Linked DNA regions of Homo sapiens: regions 1 and 2 are each linked to region 3. Evidence: fine-mapped expression QTL. A gene starts in region 3. Each other region holds a variant in brackets. All regions are shown on one strand. Distances are from middle to middle.

Region 1 (5,227 bases), 22 kb before region 3:
GACCCTGCTGGCCATACTGTGAATGCTGTTCTTTCAGCTGTGACCAATTTGGGGGTGCAGCTGAGAGTGAGGTGCTGTCAGGGCTGAAAAGGACGCACCTCATTCTACATTTGGATGTGATGAGGAGCAGGGCAGCCACCAGCTTGGATCCTAACTTACATTGGGTGGTGCAACCTTTCTGACGGGGCCTGCCAAACTATCAGTAATTAGCCAGCCTAGACAATGTAGCATGACTAATTATTGCTGTGTCAAAGCAATTCAGGACAAGAAAAACATATCTAAATGAGAATGTTTAGATGTGGTGAGAAAAGAGCTCTCACCACAATTTGAAACATATAAAAAGTTGAGTTCTTTGCAGGGGAGCCAACGGGGGCATTGAGGGAAGGGCAAAATTCACCCCAGACAGCCAGTGCTTGATCTTGCCAAACAGTTTACACTTTACCTCCAAACCTGCAGTTCTAAGCTACTCCACTAAAATAATCATCCCATCCTCAAAGCAGACCAACTCCAGCATCCCATCGGTTCTGGAGGGATTTGATGCAAACCTTTAAATGCACCAACAGAGAGGTAAGCCAAGCTCTCAGGAGGGACAAAGATAGATTTCTATCTTCAGTGCTCTTGGGGGATGTTTGCTCCTCATGAGTGTTTAAACAAGATCATTTCCAGGTGATTTCTTAACATATAAATTCCTGCAAAATAGGACCAGCTTCTATAGGTAGCGAATGTGTAGGTCATATAATTCCTTGTACAGATGTGAATGGATGCAGACTCTTTCCTAATTTGCCTTGTAAGCCAAATAAAAGTCTGTCTCTACTGTCTCTCTTGCTCTTCCTTTGCGAAAGGAGGCTTTCTGCAATGTCAATCCAGGTGACTCACAGTGCAGTGGGAAAACACAAAAGATGCCGTTTCCAGCCAAGGAAAAAAACCTTGCTCATTACTCACACCGTGATTTTCATCTTCAAAGCACTCACCAAGTACTAATTTATCCATCGCAGCCTTTATGCAGGGACTGCAATGTCATTTAATTAGAGAAGTTGGGTGGTCGAGTGGCTTAAACAATAACTGATGGCCAAATGGATGTGTATTTTAATTCCGCTCATTCATTCGATCTCTCCTGTCTAAATGAACTCAGTCCATTAAATCCATTAAAAAAAAAGTCATAAAAGCATAAGCTTTGTTTGCAAAGCAGCCACAGAATTTGAATGGAACTGCTGTTTAGAAATTCATCTTCAGAAAAAATGAACTTTTCTCCAATTTAAATAATCACTCACTCTCCAGATTTGCAACTCACTCTTATAGAAGGGCAGAGGAATTGCAGATTCTCCTAATTCCCCCATCATTTCAGCTACACCTATTTGAAGGTCGGTGTACTTACCTGAAAGTATCTTTAAACATCCGCTTTTTAGACAAGCTGTGGTAATTGTCCCTTTCAAACATAAGAATAATTCTTACCCTGAGAGCAAGTTATACCTACAGCCAACTCCTGATAGCAGCAGGTGGAACATCTGCATTTGTTTCTCTGCACCAATCTTGCTTTTGAGTTAATTCCCTCCCCTATGGATATTCTTACCTTTCTGTGCCCTTCCCCTTCCACTTAACAGGACCAAAATAGAGGTTTTTATCCCCTCCCTACCTTCCAGGAAAACATCCACCCAAACCAATTAATGACCACCACATTTCTAGGTAGCTATTACAAATAATAGAAATCAGGTAGAAGTGCACCTTCTTTCTCTGAGGTTGCACTGTGGCTTAATAAGGGCTTGACCTCAGCCTAAAGAAAGGGGGTTGGGGAGCTGCCCTGCTGTTCCGAGGCCTAGCCACTGGGGAGACAAATGAGAATTCTTGGCTTCCAGACTCATTCATCCTCACATGCAATATAAAGCCATATTCTAGTGACTGCTGCCCCCAGATGGGGAAGACTGTGTTCCACATAGAGTTTGTGAAGGATCTCACTCACATGCCATGCATATCAGCATTTTCAAGGTTTGAGAACTCCTGTCCCCTTCCCTTATTATCCTCTCAAAACCCTGTGCCATGAACATATGGCAGTTCAGTCTCTTTCAATCTCTGTCTCTGTCTCTTCCTCTGTCCTTCCTTTTTCCCTCCTTCCCTACCCACCCTCCCAACACATACACACAAAGAGAAAGACTGGAAACAGTGAGGTTTTCCCCATCAGAAGTAGAGAAATAGTTGGTGGGGCAGAGAGGGAGGGCTGG[G/A]AACTAGCAGCACAAGCTGGACTACATGACAAATGCAGCCAGATGGTTGGAGAAGATGGGAACAGAGATCCAATATTGTGTGACTACAAGGAAGGAGTCGAACTGAGTGTCCCCAAGGTGGGAAGGGTAGGTGAGGAAGAGAAGATGAAGAGGCCAGAACATAAGTAGATAAAGAAAAAAGAAAAATAGCAGACTGTTTAACTGTGAAAAAGGGCTGTAGTGAAAGAGGGGAGGAAATTGCAGAGGAGGAAAAAAGAATGAGAATTACAAGTGGCATGCGACAAGGAACTAGGTTAGGAACCCTATCTCCAGTCAGTGTTATTAACTCCATCTTCCATAAATCTGAGCTCTTTCCCTGTAGCGTTCTCTAATCCTAAGCGGTGATAGAATATTTTCTTTTGTACAAAAGCTCATTTTAACTAACACAATGATTTTGGAAAGAGAAAAAGACCCGCGGCCCAGAGTGAATCCAACAAGACTTTTATTTTTTTCACACTGACACTGGGCACCAATGTGAGAATGAATTACTATGGCTCCCCCTCATGTAGGACAAATAGACCTTAGAATTTATTTGTGGTACAACCTCCAACTACAAACAAAATCAATAGCTGAGAATTACAAACACTGGGGAGTCCCATGCTGAGGGATGGATTGCCTTAGAGCTAATGCAGGCTGGTAACACCCAGAGGCGATTAGCAGGCTTTTTTTTTTTTTTAACTTTCCAAATCTTTAGGGTGAAAGAGCAAGGACTTGAGGCAGTAAATGATATTTACACAAAACTTTTTTAATGCCGATGACCTAAGGTTGCATTAGAAACACACTTGGCAACTACACAAACTAAATAGTGACAACAAAAAGGCCATGGTTACTTTACCCTTTAGCTCCAGTCTTTGACAATCTGTAACCATTATGTACATTTCTGGCTGAAAAAAAAGCAGTGTTTTACCATATTTTTGCCCTCCAGAACCCTTCTGAACCTTCAAAATTCCTAGGAAATTGAATTTACAGCTTTAATAAAACCCTCTGCTACCCATCGATTAGATGCTACTTGACAATAAAACCACCCTCAAGCTCTTTCATCTTTCAAATCCTGGTGTTAAAAGTAGAGACTAGAGAAGCCAAACCAGAGACACACACCAAAGCAAAGACATTTCCCCCTAGTTAAGTTAAATCAATGTCCTTCCAATGGCATCCTTTGGAAAGGTACAGTTAAAAATACAGATGAAGTCTGGGCGCAGTGGCTCATTCCTGTAATCCCAGCACTTTGGGAGGCCGAGGCAGGTGGATCATGAGGTCAAGAGATCGAGACCATCCTGGCCAACATAGTGAAAACCAATCTCTGCTAAAAATACAAAAATTAGCTGGGTGTGGTGGCGTGCACCTGTAGTCCCAGCTACTTGGGAGGCTGAGGCAGGAGAATCACTTGAACCCGGAGGCAGAGGTTGCAGTGAGCTGAGATTGCGCCACTGCACTCCAGCCTGGAGACACAGTGAGACTCCGTCTCAAAAAAAAAAAAAAAAAAATACAGATGAAAAGATTTCTCATGTACACTCATTATATGAAAGAACCATGTTACATTAAGAATTATACTGTGTTGAAATATTCTCAGCTGTCAAGAAAAACATCTATAACATCCCAGCTACATAAAGCATTTACAAAAACACCTTCTAGAAATTGGTAAAGATTGTGAAGCCTGCCAAACAAGGCATGGTGGTGCCACAAGTCCAGAAAGAATGCCACCCGTGGGGTCTCAGAATCAGCTGTAACGGCAGTGCTCTCACTCACTCTCCTAGCCTTGAACAACATCTGCTTCTCAAATACAGACCTTCCTTCTGGCAGGAAGGGGCCCTTACCTCTCAGGCTCCATGACTGAGTTAGTCTTGCTGTCACTTGTTACATGAGAAATGCAATAGCTCTTGAGACATTCTGTATCCATGGTGCATATCTCCTGGGAGCATGCCAAGCCACCCAAATCCCAGTAATACCCCCAAGTTAGAGTCATCTCCATAATGAAGTGTGGGGCTCATGCACCCTCTGCATTGGCCACCCACATGAAGAACAGCTTTCTTCAGCCGCACTAAAAATGATGCATAGATGTAGATTTCCAAAGGCTATAGCAGCAAGATCACAGAAACCTTACATGAACTTCAGAATCTGACTTCTCTCTCTTCCTTGGGGCTGGATCCTCCAAAGCGATCAGATTCTAACATGAATTTCCAAAATGATCATGTTTCTTCAGGAAATGTCTCTTACAGGGCCCCTACTCACCCTGCATTGCCCAGCCTTTTATTAGGCCATGAGGATTCTGGGAAAAATGCAAATTGTCTAGGAAATGCTCCTCTTTGCAGAAATAGTTTTTTGAAAATTATATATGGGACAGAACCTGATAATAATCTATGAGAAGAGCCAGAATAGCCAAAGACATTTTTTTTTATTGATGAGGATCTAGAACAAGGCGATTGTTTCATACCAATCTGGTGCCATTTCACAATATGTTTGGCACTGCCAAACTTAGTCTAAATCTCAGAGGAAAAGTCATTAGAAGAAAAATGATTAAAACAAGCTCTGCAAAACAAAGCTATTTCTGTCCCTAGAGATGGTCCACTGTAAATGAACTGCCATGTATATAAAGAATACTCTGCCTGTCAGCACATATGCTTTTCTCTAAGAGTTATTAAAATAAGATCAATATTATTAGTGAAGCAATCAATGAAATATTTACCGAGAGAGAAAGGCAGTAAAGGACATGGAGATATGGGGGTAGGGTGCTATTTTAGGCTGGATGGTCAGGGAAGGCCTCTCTGATGAAGTGACATCTGAGAGACCCCAGTGGAGTAAGGGAGCAAGACCTAGGATCATCTAGGGGAGTGAGTTCCCAGAAAAGGCAACAGTGAAAACCCTAAAGCAGAAAGAAGCATATTTAGTTTGTTAGATCAGTAAACTATGGTTCACCACCTGATTTTATCAATAAAGTTTTATTGGCTCATTCATTTACTTATATATTGTCTATG
Region 2 (5,227 bases), 29 kb after region 3:
CGGTGTGCTGTGGGGAGGCAGCACTGCATTGTCAAGTTCCTGGGTTGAGTGAAGGCTCTGCCCCTAGCCATTGTGGGCGCCTGAGCAGGTACTCATCTCATCTCAGCTCATCTCCGGAGCTGAGGGTGCCTCCCGGGAATGACGGTGCTGAACAAGCGGATCTCCAGGGTTCATTCTAGTGCCTAAAGCCTGGGTTCTAAAGAACTATAACCAAAGCATGACTAGGAAATTCTCTGATTTAAAACAAAAATAATGCAGACACAGCCAAGTGAGGTTTGTGCCCATTAGAGAAGTCTCTTTGGAAATTTTACTCTTATGATAGTGGTGCTGCCGTTTCTCCAAACATATTCAGAATGGTTTAGAATTATCTGCAGAGCCAGTTCTGGGACCACATAAGACAATCATCTCATCGCTTTAGAGGAAACAAATGTCTTCTTTCTTTTTGTTTATTTTTATTTTTTATTTTTATCCAAAAAAAGGCTCTCATTCCCTTAAGGCAAGTTAGATTCCAGTTTCAGTTTTGTGAACTACTGGAGGATTGTAACTTCATCTCTTTTATCCTTAATTTCTACCTATAGAAATTGGGAATAATAATATCCACCTCAGAGCGTGGACACAGATAAGACAAGGACGCAGAAAGCAGTACCAAGCAAGATGCTGGGCTCAGGGTAGGTGGTAAAACACATGCATATGGGCCAGGCGTGGTTGCTTACGCCTGTAATCCCAGCACTGTGGGAGGCCGAGGCAGGCAGATCACGAGGTCAAGAGATGGAGACCATCCTGGCCAAAATGGTGAAACCCCGTCTCTACTAAAAATACAAAAATTAACTGGGCATGGTGGCGCACATGTAGTCCCAGCTACTCACGAGGCTGAGGCAGGAGAATTGCATGAACCCAGGAGGTAGAGGTTACAGCGAGCTGAGATCACGCCACTGCACTCCAGCCTGGTGACGGAATGAGATTCTGTCTCAAAAAAAAAAAAAAAAAAAAAAAAAGGCGTATGTGCATACGCGCAGACAGACAGACAGACAGACAGACCTTTATCCTTTCATTCCTTCCACATCCCAATTACCTATTTTACCACTTTATCTGCAGAATAAATTCACAGCCCACTAAACTATCAGGCTCCAAATAATTTTCATTCATTTTGAAAAATCAAATATACTTTCAGAGGAAAAGATTTGCCACCATGAAGGATATTCAAAGGGATGTGCCCAGACTCTAAAGATATCTATTTACACCATTTATATGTGTGTGTGTGTTTGTGTACAGTTGGTATTTAGTAAAATCCTTAGCCCCTCTGAATCCCGCAGACAGATCCACAGCCGGTGCTGTGATGCTGAGCCAAGATTCAGGATGATGGACAGGGGCAGGGAAAGATTGAGGACCAGGATTCACTTTGGAGCCAGCCAGACCTGGCCCCCAGGCTCAGGGAAACCCACTTTGGCTGGGTGACCTCCATCAGTCACATCATCCTTTGAAGTCTCAGTTTATTCATCAGGAAAATGAGGACAATAACATAAGTCTCATAAAGTTTGAGGATCGTTAAGTGTTAACTTCATAAACAAGCAAAGAAGAGGCACCAGTGGCTGGGAACGTTAATTCTAATTAAGGCATAAGGCATCAACATGCTTGCATGATATCTCGTGTAGCAGGAAAAGATGGAGTCAGAGGAAAAGGCAGATATGCAGGCTTAACTCTGTCCCAGCACACCTTCTAGAAAGAAAACAGCTGTCTCCTGTAATGTCCAGCTCCCCTGCCCTTCCTAGGTGGAAGGGTGGTGTTTTGTTCTCTCCCGAGGAAACCATTTCTCAGTCTCTCACCTGGTGTAGTCCATTGGGCCCTGAAGCTACCAGGCCAGTTTCAGTCAGTGTTTATGAAATGCCTTTGCCGGAGGCTACCTGATTGGCTTATCAGCCCTGGCCCTGGTAGCATTTCCGTACAATGAGCAGTGACATTTACAGCTTCAAGAAGTGCAAGGGAAACATTTTTCTTGCAGACTCCTCTTTCTCTCTCTAATGAAGCGGTCATTATAATCTTTCAGAGATGGTGCTCAAAAATGTACCCTAGCTTCCCACAGGAGAAACACTGTAAATGTCAGACACCCGATCACACTGTCTGTCTGGAGTGCATAAAACCAGCTGCTTGAACGCTGGAAAACAAAAGTCATGTTTCTTC[C/T]TGTTCTGCAGCCAAGCCTGGCTTCCGCGCATGTGACCTGTGCGGTCGCGCGGAGTCCTTCACTCAGAAGCCTCTGTTCTTGGTTTAATAATCTGCATCTAAAACTGGCACTGTACCATATAAAAATGAATCATAAACTTTAGGCTAAGAATTTACGCTTCTTTGTTTTTCTTTACATAGTTACTTAATGTATTAGTCTGTTTTCCCACTGCTGATAAAGACATATCCAAGACGGGGTAGTTTATAAAGAAAAAGAGGATGAATGGACTCCCAGTTCCACGTGGCTAGGCCTCACAATCATGGTGGAAGTCAAAAGGCACGTTTTACATGGCAGCAGGCGAGAGAAGAGAATGAGAGAGCCAAGTGAAAGGGGAAACCTCTTATGAAACCATCAGATCTCGTGAGACGCATTCATTACCACAAGAAGAGTATGGGGGAACCTCCTCCATGATTCAGTTACCTCCCACCCACCCTGCCAACAACATGTGGGAATTATGGGGGCTACAATTCAAGATGAGATTTGGGTGGAGAGACAGTCAAACCATATCACTTAGTCTTTACTTAAAATGGGGTCTCACTAAGTTACCCAGACTGCTCTTGAATGCCTGGGCTCAAGCAGTCCTTCTTCCTCAGCCTCCCGAGTATCTGGGACTACAGGTGTGGACCACCATGCCTGGCTCCCTCTTTGTACTTTAAATAGCAAATAAAAAGCACCACAAGTTGAGGGATTGCAGAAGAAAGGAGAAAGCTCTTTGTTTTTGTATATGTAACAGCACTTTTGTTCTGCTTTTTGAATGAGGAGCGCTGCATTTTCATTTTGCACTGGGCCCCACAAATTATGTAGCCAGCCCTGTCTGAAGCAGTGTAGAAATAACAGCTGTCTTTATCAGAAGGATAGGAAATAAAAATAAACACAAATTATGAGCACTCTGGCATAACTCACCTAATGATAACCCCTCTCATTGAGACCTCCCTTCTCAGTGTGTGGGCTACTCACTGTCCATGTTTATTCTTAACTGCACTGAAAACTACCCACTGCTGGACACATGTTTCTCTCCATTTCAGTTGCTTGATATTTGATATTCTGAGATTGAATGTAGAATACTGTTTCAGGAAATTACAATTTCATAAACCCTGTGTGAAAAGAAAAGACTCTTCTTTGTCCCTGGACATCTCTCAAAGGCCCTGTCTCTCCATCAGTCTCTCTGCCTCCTGGCTCCTTCTCTTCCACCACTGCCAGTTTTCTCACCCACTTCACATTTCCTGGAGATGTTGGACTGGAGTCACTAGTGGCCCAGAATTCAGACAGGCAACCATGCTCTCCTCTACAATGATAGTGCAGGACAGTAGACAGAAGCAAACATATCTCAGTCACATACTCACCCCCACTTAGGTCAAGCCACACTGATGAACCACAGTTTGGCCTGAGTTCAGCTAAGTGGGATTTCCCAAAATGTGCTTTGAGGGATACTAAGCCCTGAAGATGCCCTATGAGAAATGTGTTCAGCGCTCAAAGGTATTCAAGAAGAACTGCATAATTGCTCCTCTTTTTGAAGACTCACAAAGCACGGTAGCATCATTAAAGGCTCTGAGAAGTTCTGCAGCAGAAAACAAGCACACAAAACATCCAACCTGTTTCACTTTGATTAACCCAGAATTTCCAAAACTTGTTATTTTCCAAACTGGTTTTTATCTGCTTCTTTGGTGTAACACCTTTGAACATGCCCAGAATCAACAGCGTGTTCCAAGCCAGGCTCTGCACTCACACTCTCTAGATTCACCTCATGGATCCCGGGGGATCCATGCTTGTGCCAGGATCCCGGAGGAAGTCTCTTAATCTCTCCAAACCTCAGTTTTGTCGTTAGTAAAATGGTATTAATAATCCTAGTTTATAGGGTTGTTGTGAGGATTAAATAAGATCACATGTGAAACATCCGCAGCAGGCACTTGATGAGGTTGTTATTAAAACGCTAAGGATGTGTTTCCCTCCCTGCCTGCAGCAGTCATATCCTGTCCGTCTTCATGTTTCCTGGTCCATCTGTCTCTGTTTTCTTAACCTTCAACTTTGGGCTCAACTTTGGGTTCATTATGAAGTCAGCACCCACCAGCCCAATAACCTTGTGTCTGTGGTTCTCATCTACCAGTGCTGGGGGCAGTTTTATAAATCACTTTTTCTTATCCCCATCCTGAAACTGGACTACAGTGGGGAGTGGATCAGAGGAGGTCAAGAAGCTACTTTTTGCTAGCCTATGATGAAAAGTTTATGGTTTGTGTCCTAATTTGAGAAACGTGGGGTTTTTAAAATGAGACATTCCTTTAAAGGCACCCAAGTGTTTACAGCTATAAATATCGCAATGCAATAAAATCTGGCTGGGCCCTCTGGCTGGTGAGAGACAGACACCCAGCCCCGAGCTCAACAACATCCAGAGGCAGGACATCATATTCATGGAAGATTCTGGTTAGTGGGACTCTGTTCTATGATAAGATTTTAAATCAATGCAAGAGCACCAATGCAGTTAATGCAATGTTCTGTGCCAGGCTGGCTATTGCTGATTCTTTCTCTGCTTCTTAGGTCATCACGACAGCTCTAATCACAGGGCCTTGTCTCTCTCTGATGGGCCTGATAAGGAGGATCCAGGGAACCTTCCTGAACCTACTGGGTAAATGCAGAGAGGAGAGCATCATGAAGCCACTTTTTAGTGAGGTCTTTTGTAGAAGTAGGAGTCAGGGCACAAAGCAGAAACCACTCTGTCAAGCCCCAGTCAGACTTAATCCAAGCAATCAGATGTCAGGGGCCACCCCGAGGCTAATGGTTCAAGATCACATTTCCACAGCTGCAGGTCAGAGGTCAGGAACTGCTGTTGCTGCCCCTGCTGCTGTCACCATGGTTGTTGTGAGCCCATGAAGCTGGTGACCAACAACTGGAACTTGGTGTCTGGCTACTGCAACCACATCTGCCCCTTCTTGTTAACTTCTTCCTTCTAAAATTGCCTGAATGTATCTCAGCCTAAATCTCTCTAGCTCCAAGGGAGTCTAAAAAAGTAATTTA
Region 3 (5,227 bases):
GAAAAACATTAACAAAAACAGTATCCCAGTATGGTCAACAGCTTAACGACCTCAAAACTGAGAATACAATGCTCAAGTCTAAACTGGAGAAGGAAAATCAAAACAAGGAAAGACTGGAAGCTGAAGTTGAGTCATTCCATGCTAGACTGGCTGCTGCTATAAGTGAGTGTGATCAAAGTGTGAAAACAAAAAGAGACCTAGAACTTGCTTTACAGAGAGCACAAGACGTTTCTTTACAAGAAAGAAAATGAGTTCTGATATTTCTGAACTAAAAGATAATAATGAGTTTTTAACTGAGCAACTTTCCGAAGCTCGAATTCAATACCCTAAAAAGTAAACTCCATGACACAAGAAATTCTCTCAGAGAAAAGGTTTTGGTTTTATAAAGTGTACAAAAGGACCTAAGCCAAGTAAATCCTTTGGAAAGTGGGACTACGTAGAGGAGAGAATATCTCAACTACAACATGAAAATCTGTTGCTTCAACAACTAGATGGTGCTCATAAGAAAGGGGATAATGAACAAAAGGTAATTAATATCCAAGGATGCTGTCTTGAGAGTGAAAAGGAAGGTCTTCTGCTAGAAGGGAAAAATAAGGAATTAATCAATGAATGCAATCATTTAAAAGACTGTTTCAGTATGAAAAAGAGAAAGCAGAAGGAGAAGTAAGTATCAAAAAAGATAAATATTTTCAAACTTCCAGAAGGAAAATTTAAAATATTTGGCTACGGCTACATGTTGAACCTAGTTGAATATAAAAATTAATAGACAAAAAATGTGTTTACCATACTGTATAATTCCATTTACATGAAACATCCGGAAAAGACAAATGTATAGATAGAAAGCAGACTGACATTTGTGCGGGGCTGGGGTTGGAAATGGGTAGTAACTGCTAATGTGCAAGAGGGGTCTTCTTGGAGTGATAGAGACGTTCTAAAGTTGCAGTGATGGTTGCATGACTCAATAAATTTACTAAAAATCTTTGAACTGTATGTTAAAAGAGATAAATTCTGTAGTATGTAAACCTTATTTCAATAAAGCTGTTTCAATTAAAAAAACAAAAATTAAAAATAATTTAAAAAAATAGAATGCTAAAGAAATCTCTGACAGGCCACAGTGTGCCATCAAAATTGTCTGACATGAATTGTAAATTAGACTTTTTCTTTTCTAAACTAGAGGCAGAATCTGAAGAAAAAAAATTAAATGAGAATTTTCACACCAGAGCAAACCCAGAAATGATAAGTCAATGAAAATGAGCTTAAGGCAGAGTCCCTTATGGAAAAACAGAGCAATTAACAAGAAACTGGAGGTCCAGCATTTCCTCTCATCCTTTTGTCTGGCAATCAGCGTTTGGGTTCTCAATAATGGAAGTTTTTCTCTGAATTCAGTTTCTCTGGGTCCACCTCAATGATCTCATTCCTTTGGAAATGAGACATACAGTCAAAAGTTCATTGCATGGGTTAGACATTGTTTTTTAACTGCAGAGAGAAAAAGAATAAGGGAAATGGTTTCTAAAATCTTAAGCAAGTGTTGTACTTAGAAAGTTCTAGTCAACAATAAAATTATCCAAAGACAATTAACACAAACTGCACACAAGGAAATGGATTGTCTGAACTCTGCTGCGCTCTTTTCACCTTTCTGCAAGTCAGCTGGAATCCTGTATATCACTGAGAATATCAAATCAAAATTGAGTAATAGGTTCAGTAATTTTTAAAAATTCCCTCAAATCAAATGTTGTGCAATAATAGATGAACTTACAGGAAATAATTTTAAGGTGAGCAAGGTACACTTTTCTTCCAGTATATTTTCATTTTAAAAGGAATTTTTTAGTTCTTATTGCACTTATGAGGAACAAAGCACTGGGCACAAATTGTTACAAAGCACTCATCCCTTGATATGTTTTGTCTTGTATTTCCACATAGACATTTCAACCTCACTGCAAGCCACCTTACCATTTTACTGAGTTAAAACTAAATGAAAACACAAAAGGATGCAAATTAAATTCATCTGCAAAACAAGAGATTACCAAAACAATTAAATGTGAAAAGGTTATCATACTAAATCACTTTTTTTTGTTTGTGTCTTGAACATTCACTATGGAACTGGAATAAGCTTCTGCCACTACCGGCAGTTACAGCTACCACACTTTGGTAAATTCTGTATTCAAACGCATTTCTAAGTCACAGGCTATCTGGGCTACTAGCTGCATGTGCCCCAGGTGCGAATCAAATGAAGTTTTAATTACTGCTACTTGTGATCGGTATCCAATTAGACCTTTTACCCTCCTCCATTAGCAGAGGGCTGTGGCTCAACTTGGTTGTGGAGAGGTTTCCCAATGCCACAGGGCGTCACGATAACTCAATTCGGAGTGAATAATTTAAGAGCAGAGGTGCTTTCTCCCAGGACCCTCGACTCTCGCTGGAATCAGGACCTGCGTGGGTCGCGGGCTGGAAAGAAAATGTCAAAACTGGTAACAGTGCTGACACGTGTGGCCGGAGATGAGCGGTCCGGCCCTCGATCAGGATGGGGGGCCAGTAGCCCCGCCTCCGGCAGCTAGGGCCACACCCCCGGCAGCTAGGGCCGCGCCCTCGACTGTGGCTCCGAGGCCAGGTCCTAGGGCCGAAGTTTCCATCGTCTCACCTGAACTAGGCCGGGCTGGGCCCGGGCACTCGCGGGCCTAGGTTTCCATACCAGGAACCGCTTTAGCCAGCCTGGGGCTGCCTTTAGAGTCGCTGCTGCTTCCGCCTTCTCTCCTGGGGTTTGTGCGCCCTGACTGGCAGCAGGGGGTTGGGCCGCCAGACCCGCCCGTTTCCGCGCCGCCCGAAACTCAGCTAACCGCTGTTCCATGGCGCGCGCCTCGCGTCCGTTGGCCGATAAGGGAGCGCGCGCCCGCAGGCCGCACAGCAGTTGCCTCCGCTCGGCCCGCGCCGGCCGCCGTGCGCCTGCGTGGCAGAAGCCCCTGCTGAGCATGCGCACTGGTGTGACCCGCGTCTCCTCCGTTTGTGAAGTCTGGCGGGTCGCGTGTATACTCAGCCGTTCTCTCTTCACAGGCACGTGGACACAGTGTCACCTCCTCAAGCCAAGTCTAAAGCACAGGGCTGCCCCATTGCCCTCTCCCAAAGGCCGCTCTGCCTTGCTGCATCTCACTTAAGGGCTCGAGGCCCCACTGATCCAGCGTCCTGTATTCGGGATCTCTGTTGCTGGGCCCCAATGAACAGCGCCACAGTGAGAAGATGGTTCCAGGGGTTAGGAGAGGCCCGTGATCTCTACGACATTCCAGCGTCAGAGGAATAACAGGCTACATCTTACCCTTTTTCTCTTATCAAGGAAAGGGTATGCCAATCTTAGTACCTGGAGGGTGACTTTCTCACTGCTCACAAAGCAGGCTGTGCAGCTCCATCATTGGTCTTGCCACGTTGGGAAATTATCTCGTTTTGTGTCTAGATACGTCAGAACCTTAAAAAAACCAACAACAAAAACTTTTATTGGGGTGCAACATAAAATACACATCTTAAGAATATGACTCAGTAGATTTGCTCTTATGTATGCACCTGTGTAACTACCACCCAGATGGAGAGAAAGAACATTTCTGTACTCTGGGAGTTTCCTTGTGCCCTCTCCCAATCAGTACCCTCCCAAAAGGACACAGTTCAGGTTAGGGGCTGTTTTATACGTTCTTAAAGCTGTAAGCATCTAGCTAAGTGTCACTTACATAATTAAGACTCAAATATTTGTTGGATCTGGCTGAGGGTGACTCGAGAAATTAGACAAATTAGAACAGAGTCATCCATTCATTTAACAGACGTTTACCTAGGGCCTGCTCTGTCTAAAGTCACAGGCACTGGGGATGCTGGGATGAAAGGAAAAAACAAACAAAAACCTGTTTTCTTAGAGCTTACACTCCAAATGGAAATACAGACAATAAACAAATGTGTATCTACATATTTCATGTCATATCAGGTACTGATAAGTGCTGTGAAGAAAAGTGAAGCAAAGTAGGCAATGGTGGAGGTATTAGAGAAGACCTCCCTGAAGGTTTGTCATTTGGGCATAGACTTAAATGAGTGAGGTATGTAGATATCTGAACAGGAGTGTTTCAGTCAGAGGAACAAGTGCAAAGGTCCCGAGGCCTCAAATAGCACGCTTGACTTGTTCACAGAACATCAGGGAGGCTGTTATGACTGGATTGGAAGGAGGGAGAGGGAGGCAGGGAGGGAGGGAGGGAAGGAGGGAAGGAGGGAGAGAGGGGGAGAGAGGGAGGGAGGGAGGGAGGAAAGAGTGACAGAAAATAAAGATGCCAGGGGCAAGATCGTGCATGTAAGGCCCTGTAGGCCATGGTGAAGACTAAGTGTGGTGGGAAGCAGTTAGTGGATTTTGAGCAGGAGATGATATGATATGACATATTTTTAAAGGATTACACTGGCTGATGGAGGTGGGACCCTGGAAGATTGCAAGAATAGAAGAAGGGAAACTAGTTAGGAATAAATATGGTAGAATGAGAAACTGTAGTAGTTTGAGCTAGAGTGGTAGTGATGGAGGTCACGAGAATTGGTCAGATTCTGAATGTATTTTGAAGACCTGAGCCAACATGGTGTGAGACGGATTGGATGTGGAATGTGAGGAAAAAAGGTATCAAGGATGACAGGGCCAGCCATCGTGGCTCACGCCTATAATCCCAGCACTTTGGGAGGCCAAGGCAGGGGGATCGCTTGAACCTAGGAGTTCAAGACCAGCCTGGGGAACATAGCAAGACCTCATCGCTATTAAAAAAAAAAAAAAAAAAAAAGGATGACAGGTTTCTTCCATTACTACCCCACTCCTCCTGCCCCCCCATATACATACACACATGCCCTGAGCAACCAGGCAAATGATGCTGGGGCCCTCTATTGAAATGAGGGCACACTGGGAGGAGAGAATTACAGAATAAACACTGGAAGTTTTGTTTTGGACATACAAAGAACTTGGGATGCCTATTGGATATCCAAAAAATAGGCAGTTAGATAGTGAAAATGATTTGAGGGGAAAGTCAGGACCGGAGGCACACACTGGGAGTCATCAGCATGTGTATATTTAAAGCTGTAAGACTAGATAAGATCAAACAGTGAGTGTGGATAAGAAGAGATTTGAGGGCTGAGCCCTGAGTGGATTAGAGATGGTTTGTAAGAGAAAAGAATGGGATTATTACACCACAATGTCCTCTCTTTGAGAAACCACAAGAGGAAATTTCTT

What was found.
Region 1: its variant is fine-mapped to the expression of SAYSD1 in B cells (Fairfax 2012, PIP 0.95). The same link has a PIP of 0.9 or more in monocytes after muramyl dipeptide.
Region 2: its variant is fine-mapped to the expression of SAYSD1 in whole blood (TOPMed, PIP above 0.99). The same link has a PIP of 0.9 or more in blood mononuclear cells.

What each region holds. Positions count from the first base shown.
Region 1 is chr6:39,090,486-39,095,712 of GRCh38, forward strand. It overlaps GLP1R (glucagon like peptide 1 receptor), which reads left to right. Exons shown (of 13, transcript NM_002062.5): 13 at 1-818. Among named protein-coding and RNA genes, the nearest start is that of MIR9983, 19 kb to the left of the region's middle. The variant G/A (reference allele first, on the strand shown) is at 2,217.
Region 2 is chr6:39,141,531-39,146,757 of GRCh38, forward strand. No RefSeq gene overlaps it. Among named protein-coding and RNA genes, the nearest start is that of SAYSD1, 29 kb to the left of the region's middle. The variant C/T (reference allele first, on the strand shown) is at 2,179.
Region 3 is chr6:39,112,245-39,117,471 of GRCh38, forward strand. It overlaps SAYSD1 (SAYSVFN motif domain containing 1), which reads right to left and starts at 2,942. Exons shown (of 2, transcript NM_018322.3): 1 at 2,639-2,942. The coding sequence starts at 2,845. It also overlaps the pseudogene ANKRD18EP. RefSeq lists an enhancer at 2,536-2,825.